Regions from separate parts of the Homo sapiens genome. Here all the other regions are reported to be linked to region 1. Evidence: microRNA targets listed by miRTarBase, many of them from high-throughput screens and not tested one by one. Region 1 holds a microRNA gene; each other region holds the end of a gene's coding sequence.
What was found. The annotated mature microRNA hsa-miR-4499 reads AAGACUGAGAGGAGGGA and lies in region 1 at 1,001-1,017, opposite strand. An mRNA with a match to its seed (bases 2 to 7 or 8) in the 3' UTR can be bound and repressed. Matches are read on the target gene's strand: a 7mer-m8 pairs with bases 2 to 8, a 7mer-A1 pairs with bases 2 to 7 and ends in A, and an 8mer does both.

Region 2: miRTarBase lists NUCKS1 as a target of hsa-miR-4499. Seed matches in the 3' UTR shown: 8mer at 1,147-1,154 and 7mer-m8 at 2,968-2,974.
Region 3: the mRNA of PDCL is a reported target of hsa-miR-4499. Seed matches in the 3' UTR shown: 7mer-m8 at 2,186-2,192.
Region 4: the mRNA of STON2 is a reported target of hsa-miR-4499. The part of its 3' UTR that is shown has no 7-base or 8-base seed match.

Annotation. Positions count from the first base shown.
Region 1 is chr13:20,432,830-20,436,276 of GRCh38, forward strand. It overlaps MIR4499 (microRNA 4499), which reads right to left and starts at 1,017; the gene lies at 949-1,017. All of the region lies in intron 4 of CRYL1 (crystallin lambda 1), which reads right to left.
Region 2 is chr1:205,715,328-205,718,519 of GRCh38, reverse strand. It overlaps NUCKS1 (nuclear casein kinase and cyclin dependent kinase substrate 1), which reads left to right. Exons shown (of 7, transcript NM_022731.5): 7 at 41-3,192. The coding sequence ends at 240. Among named protein-coding and RNA genes, the nearest start is that of NUCKS1, 33 kb to the left of the region's middle.
Region 3 is chr9:122,817,476-122,820,667 of GRCh38, reverse strand. PDCL (phosducin like) reads left to right here. Exons shown (of 4, transcript NM_005388.5): 4 at 32-2,571. The coding sequence ends at 583. Among named protein-coding and RNA genes, the nearest start is that of PDCL, 9.5 kb to the left of the region's middle.
Region 4 is chr14:81,265,647-81,268,838 of GRCh38, reverse strand. STON2 (stonin 2) reads left to right here. Exons shown (of 8, transcript NM_001394390.1): 8 at 342-3,192. The coding sequence ends at 425. Among named protein-coding and RNA genes, the nearest start is that of GTF2A1-AS1, 46 kb to the right of the region's middle.

The DNA of each region.
Region 1 (3,447 bases):
CAACACAGCGAGACCCTGTTTCTACAAAAAATAAAAAAATTAGCTAGGTGTGGTGTTGTGTACCTGTAGTCCCAGCTACTTGGAAGGCTGAAGTGGGAGAATCATTTAAGCCCAGGAAGTGGAGGCTGCAGTGAGCCATGATTGTGCCATTGTACTCCAGCCTAGGTGACAGTGCCAGATCATCTCAAAAATAAATTATTAGCAGTGTCTTCCCAAAACCTGGTATTTCCTTAATTCCTCCATATTGTACCTTAAGTGTCTGCCTCTTCCAGTCTAATGTCACCTTCCTGCTCTAGAAATCAACAGGCATCAACACACCTCAGCAGCCCCAGCACCCCGACGAGCCCAACACAGGAAGGCATTGTCCAGGTGAGCATGCCCCAAGGGAGGACCCTGGACTTCACTGTTCAACTCTGGTGTTCTTGGTTTACTTTGAGAAACTGTTCTTAGAGATTCCTCACAGAGAGTTATCAAATGTCCAAAGAAAACAGTGCCTGGTAGAACCTGACTGGCCTGAGCACTGAGCCAAGTATACCACAGCAAACAGAAATGATGCTTTTCAATGGGTTTTCCTCCACTACATGGGTGATAGGTAGAATGTCACATTTGCTAAGTGATGCTTCCATGAGCAGAAGCTTCCATTTAAAGATGACTCCCACAGAAGAGGAAAGGAGAAATAAGGGCCATCCTGGGCACCTGCTCTGCCCTCTCAGGAATCAAGAAAAGACGGCTCCTGTTTCCAAATAGACAGATGGTAAATCGATGCCTCGGTTAAACACCTGTCACCTACTGAATTCTTATAGAAACGCTTAACCTCTGACCTTTTGAAAAATGAAGATTAGAAGAACTGGAAGTGTGTCTTTCTCAGATGAATTTTACCTTATTTTATATAAAGCAGGCATGCTGGGATTGGGGTCTTTCAAACATTGTAAGCCTCACTGGTAGCAAAAACAGACTGAGACAAGGAGTTAGAAAGCATTTCTATGTACAACTCACCAGTTCCCTCCTCTCAGTCTTCTCTGCGATTTTTCCTGCTCACACTTTCACTGAGTGATGGTGACCCCCAGTCTGCCACAGTGGCCCATCTGTGCCCACTCCCTGGTGTCACCACCACCAAGACTTGAGGACACAGAATACACCTGCATGTCTCACACAGATCCCAGCCTCACCCTGGCCCACATCTGCAACTGAGTGCTGGACGCCTTCCCTTGGGCACACCCCAGCACAGACTTGTCTCATGTGGGTTATCCCCATGGTCCCCAACCCTGGCAGGCTCCTGATCTCAGTGAGAATGTGTCACATCCCCACACCCAAGTCAGTACCAGGAGAAATGTTCCTGGCCCCTGCCTCTCCCTAGCCCCTCTCACTTTCCATTGAGAGGTGAGGCCAGCTGGACTCCCTGGGTCAAGTGTGAACTTGGGGAGCTTTTCTGTCTTACAAAAGGATTGTAAAATGCACCAATCAGGAACTTTCCTGTCTTACAAGAGGATTGTAAAATACACCAATCAGCACTCTGTAAAACGCACCAATCAGTGCTCTGTAAAACACATCAATCGGGGCTCTGTAAAACGCACCAATCAGCACTCTGCAAAACGCACCAATCAGCGCTCTGTAAAATGCACCAATCAGCAGGATTCTAAAAGTAGCTAATCGGGGGAAGGATTGAAAAAAGGGAACTCTGATAGGACAGAAATGGAACAGGGGAGGGGCCAATTAGGGAAAAAAAGCTGGTCACTCCCCCCACCCACCCCTACCGCCCACCCACACCCACACGCGCCCCCCCACCCACACCCCTACACCCCCACCTGCAGCGTTAACCCACTCCGCTGTCTTTCCCTGCTGTGGAAGCTTTGTCCTTTTGCTCTTCACAATAAACCTTGCTACCACTTACTCTTTGGGTCCGTGCTATCCTTAAGAGCTGTTAACAATCACCACCAAGTCTGTGGTTCACGAAGTCAGCAAGACCACAACCCACCAAGACCAACTCCGGACACACCATCAGTTACTGAAGTCCTGTTACTTCTCTTTACTCTTCTCTCAAAAAAATCATTGCCACTGCCACCCTCAGCTCAGGGCCCCCGTTTCCATATATATTCTGCACTCCCTTCATGGGACTCCTGCTGGGGTCTCAGCCCCTCTATCTCATCCTCCCAGAGCAATCCGTGTTGTAGCGGGAGCCTATCAAATCCACAGCAGCAGCAGAAAGCTAGGTTCAGGTGCCGCGGCTGGGGTGGAGCTGTGGAAAGTTAGTGTTTCATGGGTAGGAGGTTCAGTCTTATAAGAGGAGAAAGTTCCATGGATTGTTGGTGGTGGTGGCTGCACACCAGTGAGAATGTCCTTAATGCCTCCAAACTGCACACTTACAAATAGTTAAGACGGTAGATTTTGTTATGTATATTTTACCACAATTATACATTTTAAAAGTAAAAAACAGGACTTTGATCATGCCTTCTCCAACGAAAAATCTTGAAGGGCTGCCCAGCGCCCACTGTACAAGGCACACGGCTGACTAGGACGCAGGGGCCAGCGACTGGGCCCCACGCAGCCCCCCAAAACAGACTTCCATTCACACCGACTTCCATCCACACCTCCGTGTCCACCTACGGAAGCCGCCGCAAAAGGACCTTCGAGGTCTCCCGGCTGGGAAACAGTCTCCCTAACCACAGCCCTCAGCCTCTGGCCCAAGAGGTCAATCTTGTCAATAAGGTCGGGTGCCCCTTGAATTTACCACAGTAGAGGGGAGGAGAGGAGGCGAGACAGGAGAGGAGGCAGCTCCCCCGCCCCAAACCTTCCATGTGGGAGTGTGCGAGGTGGACTCGGAAACACGCCCCCGAAAGGGTTCGACAGATACAACGGCAGCGCAGCGCAGGGGCCTGGGCCTGCGCAGGCCGGCGGAGCACAAGGGACGCATTCTTCCCCGCCGCCCGGGCCCCATGTGACCGCGCCGACAGCGCGGCTGCCCACAGAGACTCCCTTCACCCCCGCTCCGGGAGCAACCAAAACGGCGAGGCCCACAGGGCCGACAGCGCCCTCGCGGGAGGCAGCCGGGCTGGGGCCTCTTGCCAGCCCTCGGTGTTCGATGCTTCATGGGTAGCCCATCCTCTCGGCGGCGCGCTCGCAGGGAGGGCTCAAAGGCAGCTCGGAGCGGCCGCAGGGCCGTGCAGATGTGCAAAGAGACGCACAGAGCACGGGCGCTTTGCAGACAGCAAGCCCATACATCCAATATTTACCACCAATACCAGGGCAGATGACTTCGGTGTGAGACGTGAGGTGAGTTCGAAAAGGCCACGCACAAGCAAGGGGCGGGGGAGCGGGCTAACTGGTGGCCTCTCCCCCAACGCCCACCGCACGCCCCAGTCTGCCAGCCGCGGCCCCCTTCCCAAGCAGGCCTGTCCATACAGCACAGTACTTGGTGGGCTCCGAAGACCCCACCAGCCCTGTCGGACC
Region 2 (3,192 bases), not on the chromosome of region 1:
TTTTTCTCTTCCCTTCCCCAAATTATTTTTCTATTTTCAGTGACGCCAAGTCCAGTGAAAGGCAAAGGGAAAGTGGGTCGCCCCACAGCTTCAAAGGCATCAAAGGAAAAGACTCCTTCTCCCAAAGAAGAAGATGAGGAACCGGAAAGCCCGCCAGAAAAGAAAACATCTACAAGCCCCCCACCCGAGAAATCTGGGGATGAAGGGTCTGAAGATGAAGCCCCTTCTGGGGAGGATTAAAAGTGATGATGGTCTGGGGAGAGATTTTATTAAAAAAAAAAAGAAAAAAAAAGAAAAAAGAGGGAGGAAAAAAAAGAACCTACTTAAGATAGAACATGGTTTTGGCTATGGCTTGACTCATGGGCTTTCAGTGCTTTTTTCCATTTGTTGAAAGTAACATTTCTCTCTCTCTCTCTTTTTTTTTTTTTTTTTTTAAAGCAAACCATTGTATGTGTAAGTGTTTAAGTTACCTTTTTGTCTATTGGTCTCTTTGCCAGCCCTCCCCTTTCCCAATGAAAGCCATGTCAAATTAATCACTGGATTGACTGCTTCATCTTTTTATTTTTAATGAAAGGTGTACCACGGTTGTAAAGCAATAAGATTTGAGATGAACACTATTGAAACTTCGCTTTTTGCTAAAAAATAGCAAGTTGAATAGTAATCAAAAAACATAGAAAGATTTTAGTTCAAAATGATTGCTCCTTTCTCTACCTGGACTTTTAAAAAATCAATTGTCATCTAATATGAGTTTATTTGTCTATAGACACAAGTATCAATGTCTAAAAAAAATCATGACTTTAAACTTCCACCGATGAGGCAGGTAGGAGATAAAGATGAATTCTGAACTGTTACTAAAAGTACTCATTTTTTACCTTGTAGGGAGGGTGGGCAATGGGGTTACCTGACCTTATTTGAGGGTATGGGCTTTCTTTTTTATTTCATCACTTGTTATCTCAAAGAGACTCGGAGCCAGTGATCCTTTTATCCTGCTACAGTCTTTAGGGAGCTAAAAAAAAAAAAAAAGCAGGGGCTGCCAAAACTCTTGATTTCATATTTCCTTCTCTAAATATATATGTATCCTGTTTTTTGGATAAAATTTTACCAAGAATCCAAAAAAAAAAAAACCCTAGAATTTAATCAACAAGATCAGTCTACAGGTCACAGTGGATTTCTTTTCAAACTGACAATGTTTAGGTTTTAAGCAAATAAAGTTCCAGTTAATGTGAAACTCAGTCACAAAGAGTTGAGATTTTTCCTTTATGAAATAGAATTGACATTCTTTTATGCTATAAATGTGCATTCAGGTCCCATTAACCATGCTCTGCTTTTATTTGGGGATAGAACATTTTCTTTTTCATATCCCGATCTTCCCATTTCTTCATAGAAATGTGATAAGAAGTACATCCCTGTGATCCTGCTGCTTCGTAGAGCACCACTGCACACCCTACCCCGAGTGCCAACCACCTCTGCTATAGGACACTATTTTCCTGGCCCTATTCTTCACTTACTTCCCATCCTGTCCTTGACTAGGAATATGTTAAATGCTGCTCCCATACAATTCAGTTAGCTCTTGTCTTTTTATTTGGTCCAACCCCTGCTTTACTGCTCATGCTGCTTAAAGCAGGAGGGACTAGAGAAACAAGGCATTTTAGGAGGCCTGTGTGCAGTTGAAAACCGACTTTTACACGCCTTATAAAAGCAGTCAGGAGATAGATCCGTAGGTTTGATCCTTCACATCTAATACCAGGCGCTAATGGGAACAAGGTTTAAAGGGTCCTGGTATGCTAATAAATTGAAAAATTAGTGAAATTTAAACTTCTGCCTTTTTTTCCTGCCTTTTAATCTAGATTTGCTTCCTCAATATCCTACTTTGTGGTTTACTAGGAACATGCTTACTCTGATCTTTTTTTAAAAAACACACAGTGGCAGAGTCATTTCACTATTGCACTGTGTGTTAAAGAATGAATAAGGAGTTTTCAGTTACATGGCCAAAAATACAGGACTTGAACATAAATAGCAGTTGGATCATTCTCTTTCATGACGGTTAAATTCAGAGGTGTGAACTTTGTAATGAGGGTGTTAAAGATTAATCTATTTGCCTAAATGGGTTTGTTCAGGTATCCATTTTTAACAAAGAAGTTTGTGTTCATATAGTAAAAGACCTATCAGTGTTTCCACCATGCACTTCTATTTTTTAGGAGTTTATAATTTTAAGTCTTACATTCCTAGTAACATTTGGGCTTTTCTTAGGTTATGTTTCGTGAAGATTTGGGGGGAGGGCTCTTTTAAAACTTCAGCCTCAGTTGTTTAACAGTCTCTTTAATATATTAATCTGCACTAACATCTCTGTGATATATGCACATATTTTAGAGGTAATCATGTCTTCTAGATTACTTGTGTGCATTTGATTGGGCTTCTTGTTTAGGGTCCCTTTTAAAATTAATTCATTAGATTGAAAAATGTATTCTATATTTCTGATAGACTGGACAGAAGGATCTGTGTCCCCAAGTGAGACAGGCTCTGAATAACCTTTGTTTTCTCCACTTTTTATTGATGATTTAAAACACTCTAGTCTTCCCCTCAAATCATGCATGCAAATAGGAGGACAGTGGTGGTGACTCAACTGGATACAGGTGCTCAATAGTCAGGCTTGATAGTGATGTCAGGACGCATTACAAGCTGTAAGCCGATACTGACTGGCCATTGGCACCATCCTTGACTAACCTTCCTCTTTTTCTCTAGTGTGCCTATGGTGAAATGGCAATAGCATTCACTGTCGTATTTTGCAGTGCTCAGGAAGTGGGACGTTAACTTTGAAGGTGCTTGTTTGTATTAGCTCTGCTAGGTTTACCTCTACAACGTAGATTTCAGCAGCTATGCTGACTGACACTACATTCTAGTTCTTAAGATTTTTTTTCCAGATCCCCCCTTCCCCAGCTAGACATACGTAGCATACTTTCATCTTATTCAGTCTTTCTGTAACCTGCTGCTGCTTTTAGTCCTCCTCACCTCAGATCGGAATCAATGGAGTGGGCCCAGAGGATACATTTTAATTCCAGTAATGGTAGGTAGATTTGTCCTGCTTTCTAAAACATCTCCTCATTTCATATTTCCACTCCATATTGATTCCATAAGGGAAAATTAATGGGTGTTTCCTCCTTTAGGGAGGTAATGCAAAGAGTGTGGACATCT
Region 3 (3,192 bases), not on the chromosome of region 1:
TATTTATGCTCACTTGCTGGTCCGCCTGCAGATGACTCTGAAGGAGTTTGCCATAATGAATGAGGACCAAGATGATGAAGAGTTTCTGCAGCAGTACCGGAAGCAGCGAATGGAAGAGATGCGGCAGCAGCTTCACAAGGGGCCCCAATTCAAGCAGGTTTTTGAGATCTCCAGTGGAGAAGGGTTTTTAGACATGATTGATAAAGAACAGAAAAGCATTGTCATCATGGTTCATATTTATGAGGATGGCATTCCAGGGACCGAAGCCATGAATGGTTGCATGATCTGCCTTGCCGCAGAGTACCCAGCTGTCAAGTTCTGCAAGGTGAAGAGCTCAGTTATTGGCGCCAGCAGTCAGTTCACCAGGAATGCCCTTCCTGCCCTGCTGATCTATAAGGGGGGTGAATTGATCGGCAATTTTGTTCGTGTTACTGACCAGCTGGGGGATGATTTCTTTGCTGTGGACCTTGAAGCTTTTCTCCAGGAATTTGGATTACTCCCAGAAAAGGAAGTCTTGGTGCTGACATCTGTGCGTAACTCTGCCACGTGTCACAGTGAGGATAGCGACCTGGAAATAGATTGAACTGATAGTCTAGTTGCATAGATTTCTCATTGTTTGGGTTGGAATACACGTCATTGTTTATTTTTGTTCCTTTGTCTTCTGGCTTTTCAGCTGTTCTTTGTAGTCCCTTTTATTATGCATAAAATAAAGAAATTCTTAGATTAAATCAGAATGCTGAATAACCTTGTAGCTAGCAATAAGGTGACTTACAGTTGTATAAACAGGAAGCCAGGCTTTTGAACTGTTTACTTAAGATTCTGTGGTGTGACATCTCTGTTATTGTTTCCAGTCAATATTTACAAAGCATCCTAAAGACAGGGTCTTGGAAATTGTCTTCAGATGATCTTAGAGGTCTCTGCCAAGTCTGAGAGTATAATTCTGTAGGTATTGTGTTATTTGCAACGTAAATAGTGCATTTTCTTAATCAAATGATTGTAAATTATATTTACTTGTAATCAGTTCCATAGCTTTAGACGGTGGTTAGATTTTTTTTTTCCCCACCAGGGTCTTGTTTAAAGGGGTGAGCCACCGCACCCAGTCCTGAGGGGTGGCCTCTGCTGCTGGATTTCATGTCTTCCTCCAGCATGACTAAGTCTGGAACAGCAGGAAGGGTTGATGCTTACTGACCTGGTGATGTTAGAAGACAAGTAGTTTATGGATTTAAACATTAGAGCTGGAGTGGGGCTGGAAATCTTTGTAAAGGAAGTTCTTTCAGTAAGATGCCCCTGCTTGTCTTTGTCTCTTTTTTGTTTAACAAGGTAACTTTTTGTTTAACAAGGTAACTTTTTGTTTAACCTAGATTTTTTTTAAAACTTTTTTTTTTTTTCATATTGGAAAAGTAATTCATATTCAGTAGAGGAAAACTGACCAAAACAGAAGCAAAAATAAGAAAATTAAAATAATCTCTAATCCTACTACCTAGAATAAAACACTATTAATATTTTGGTCTGTTTCCTGCCAAGGTGTTTTCTGTGTATACATGGATATTTTGTTTGTTTTTAAACAAAACGATGGGATCATTCTGAACATACTGTTCTATAGTATGGTCAGCTAATAATATATCAGACCTTTTTTTATATTATTAAATATTCTACAACTTTTTAAAAATGTCTATTAATATTCCATCGTATAGATGTGATATAATTTGCTTGATGGTTGTCTCTTAAAAAGAAAGATAGCAAATACTTTTTTTAAATTACAAAAGTGATAGATGTTCATTGTAGAAAATGTAATAAACACTGTTAAGACTTAAAAGCCATATAATTCCACCAACCAAAATTAATCCCTTTTGTCATATTTCTAGTCATTTTTATAGCCTTTTTTTCTATGTATTTATAATAATTATCATTTGCGTTTTTTTCCTTTTTTTAACTTTAAAAATGTATATTCTAGGGTCAGGGGAAATGTAATCTGGAATTAAATATTAGCCTTAAAATTCACAATTTTGATTTTCCTGGCTTTTCAGGAATTGACTAACTGTAAAAGAGTCTTGAAAGTATTTAGTCAACAAACAGAGTGCATTTTTTTTTTTTTTGACTAAGAAAGCTCGTTGTAGTAGAAAGGGTGGAATGTATTGAAAATTATTAGAAGCAGGGAAGTATTGTTAGTCTAGCTTATTTCCTTTCAGTCTTTTTTCAATATTTTTATAAACATTGAGTACTTACTGAATTTAGTTCTGTGCTCTTCCTTATTTAGTGTTGTATCATAAATACTTTGATGTTTCAAACATTCTAAATAAATAATTTTCAGTGGCTTCATAATATTTCATCATTTGGATATATAATAATTTATTTAACCAGTCTCTTTATTTTTATTTATTTATTTTGTTTGTTTTCTTTGAGATGGAGTCTCGCTCTGTCACCCAGGCTGGAGTACAATAGCGTGATCTCGGCTCACTGCAACCTCCACCTCCTGGGTTCAAGCAGTTCTCCTGCCTCAGCCTCCTGAGTAGCTGGGACTACAGGCACATGCCATCACGCCTGGCTAATTTTTGTATTTTTACTAGAGACGGGGTTTCACCATGTTGGCCAGACTGGTCTCAAGCTCCTGACCTCAGGTAATCTGCCCGCCTCGGCCTCCTAAAGTGCCGGGATTACAGGCGTGAGCACGCTGCACGGCCTAACCAATCTCTTTATATTGGTTATTTAGATTCTCAGTGTTTTGCTGAACACTTAATGCCTTTGTGTTTTGGGCTATATTTTGAATTATTCTCATAGATTTCTAGAAGAGGAATTACTGGGCAAATAGGGACACTTAAAAATAGCTTTTACAAACCATCTTCTGTTCTCATTGAAAATGAGAATATATTATGCACTTACAGGGAACTTGACTTTGCTTTTCAAGAACAGAAGTTCTAAAATACAGTAGGGCTGGGTGTGGTGGTTCATGCCTGTAATTCCAGCACTTTGGGAGGCTGAGGCAGACATAGTGAGGCCTCATCTCTACAAAAAATAGAAAAAATTAGCTGGGCACGGTGTTGTACCTCTAGTCCCAGCTACTTGGGAGGCTTAGTCAGGAGGATCTCTTGAGCCTGGGAGGTCAAGGCTGCAGTGAACCATGATTGCACTCCAACCTGGGCGACAGAGACCCTGTCTCAAAAAAAAAAAAAAAAAAAAAAATTAAAAAAAAGA
Region 4 (3,192 bases), not on the chromosome of region 1:
AAGATACGGTGGAAATATTCACAGAGAGAAGTACCTAAGTCTACTTAATAAGTCAAAAATAGCTTCACAGAAGGGGTGATCTTTGACCAAATGTACAAGGCAAAGAATAAGAATTTTCCTGGTGGACCATGAGGGAAAGGGAATTACAGACCAGTTAAAGAACATGTGCAAAGAGAGAGACATGATATACTCAGGGCCAGTAGCTCCAATGTGGCTAACGCCCAAAATGTTAGCAAAATTATAAGAAATTTCAAAGTACCTATGGAGTTTTGGTTTACTTATTTATTTGCATGCTTTTTCTCTTCTTTTTGATCTTTATCTCCAACTTCTATTCTTGGCAGGTGGAAATTGAGCAAAAAAAGAGTTTGAAGCCGGACTTTGAAGGAGATGAAATGGAAAATCCCAAGGAGTGTGGAGTGCAGTGACAAAGCCTTGCGGCAAGGAATCCTGATCCCAGAGTCATGATAGGGTGTCTTCCTGAGTCATGATAGGGTGTCTTCCTGAGTAGCTGAAGTTGCAGTCAATACCTGCTGTGGCCACTGCATGTTGGGAACAGTATACCAGATCTTCCTGTTTGCAGTTACTTGTATTTTACCAGGAAACCCTGAGAATGGTGGCTTTTGGAGAGGCTCTTTGATTCTGGTCATGCCTAAAGCACGAGGTTCACCTGACTGTTGGAGCTTACTGTATAATTAAGCCTCCTTGTCTTGTCTCTGCTTATCTCACAGCACTGGTATGTGGTTTGTTGTGACTGTTACAGTCAGGAAAAGAACCTCCCACATCAGTGTTAGCACGATTGCCTTCTGATGTTCATCTGTCACTCGCATAACTTTCTGGCAAAGGCAGTCTTGAGAAGTTAATTAAGAATCCATCTCTTTCACTCTGTCTAGAAAAGGTTCAGAAAAGGTGCAAAACAAATTTCCTCTTTGGGTCTTACTAGACCTTTTTGAGGTGTCTCCATTCTTTAACTGTTAAGCTTTCAAGACATTTCCCTCCTGGCTCTAGATCGTTTAGATTGGAACACTTTTTCCATCTCTCTAAGGTTTCAGTCACAGGATTTGCTATCCTGAGTCACAATAGACAATGGAAAAAGGCACAATAGGAGACTTTTTAATTTTGTGAATGGACCCACATTCTGCAAAATGGGTGTTGAGGGGAAGGCAAAATTAATCTTAGTTTTCTTCATTTTGGAGAAAAGAGACATTAAATATAAGATGATGTTCAGTTCAAGAGGTAGATTCAATCTCAGTGAATTCCCAAATTCACACTGAAAAATACAGTCCACTTCTGATTCCTGAAACAAATATACATAATACCTGAGGCATTTGTAAGGGGCATTTGGGAGTTCTTTTTATACCTCATGACCAATAGACAGTTGCATGTCCCTTTAACCCAACTTTATAGGAAATTTAAGCTGCAAAGATAATTTTTAAAGCTGTTTTAAAATTAAGCTTGAATGAGCTTTCCCCCAAAATTCAGAGTTTGATAATCACAGTATTGGATTGGATTGAAAAGGCATCTCTAGGGTAGAGACGTGGAAAAGCCATATTTTTCTAATGTTGGGAACATTATATTCTGATTCCAAGAGTCAGAACGCTCACTCCATCTTCTTTTTCTTCATCTGTTTCTGGGACAATTAATCTTCTTTTCCTTCATCCGTTCCTACTCACCTCTGCTTCTTATTTGTATCTTAGTGTTTTCTCCCATGAAGAATACAAGTCGGGGGACAGAAAGCACACTTCATTGGATTTGTAGATGATGCAGAAATGAAAAATATCTCCAGTTTTTGGCTGATGGATTCAAGATTAATGTATTCAATGAACAATCATTGGAGTCTAAATGTGTATTGACACTGGGATATAGAAATAGTTACAGTATTTTGAAATATCTGAACTAAGACTGAAAGTAAAATGATGATTGAATAGGCATTAATGAGAAACCCTATATTCTGGGTTTTTAAAATGCAACCCTCTAAGTACAGAGTGGAGTGTGTGTTTGTGGATGTGTGTGTTTGTGTGTGTTTATGTGTGTGGTGTTGATGGGAACGGTGTTAGGAAGACCTGGTTTCACGGTAGTTTATAGAGAAATATTTCCTTACAGAAATGGAGGTTCAATGTTGAATCAGAAATATATCATGGCTATTCACAAAGCTAATGTAGTCAGCTGGTGTTAATAAAAGCCTTACATGCTTTTATTAACCCTCCATCTAGTCCATATCTAAATGGAGGGTTGAGTTCAATTATGGGTATCATATTTTAAGAGAGACATTAATAAGTTGATTGTGTCCATAGGGAGGTGACCAGGGTTGTAAAGGGTCTGATGATGCAAGAACAAGGGAGTAGCTTCCCTGAAGGAACAGAAGGTATAGCTGGAAAGGGAGTGCAGACAAGGAGGGAATGATACAATAGCTGCCTAGAAATTTCTATTGAGCTATGAAAAGGAAGAGGAATTAGATTTATTCTGTGTAGCTTCAAAGGGCAAAAATAAGAACAAAGAGGAACTTTACAGGTGACAAATGTTTGCTTCAATATAAGGAAGAATTGTCTAATAAGAGTTGTTCTAAAGAGGAATAGACTCAAGTTAGTAAGATTTCCTGTTCCTGTGAATGCCCAACAGTTAAAATAACCACCTATCCCACGTGCTGTGAAAGGGAATCTTACATTGGATTTGGTCTATATGTCTACCAAGATTCCTTCTAAATATAGGTTTAGTCTCAATAGTAATAAGACTCTCTAACTTCATTTGTCTTTTTCTTCATAAGTGGTTTTTCATGCTCTTTGAAATACAGTGGAGTTCCTTTGAGGTTTTTGTCAAGGAATTTCAACGCATATCTCTTCCCCTGTTGTACTGAAGGCTTTTGAGATTAATTCCTCATAGAACATCTAAATGGATTGGAGAGTTGGCAAGGGAAATGAAGCTCATCCCAGCACCTTCCTTAGTCACTCACGCTTAGCACTCTGTCAAGATCTCTGCCTCATCTGCTAGCATAACATGTGGATTGCTTGTTGGAGCTTATTTCCCCGCCCCCCATGGTAAATTCTCATTTCCTGTGTACATGCACCTGGACTTTTTTGTTTTTTTTACCAAGAGTTGGGAAAAATCCCTTCTATGCTATCTATATTCTGCAAACAAATTATTATTATTATTATTATTGAGACAGAGTATTATTATTATTATTATTATTATTATTAC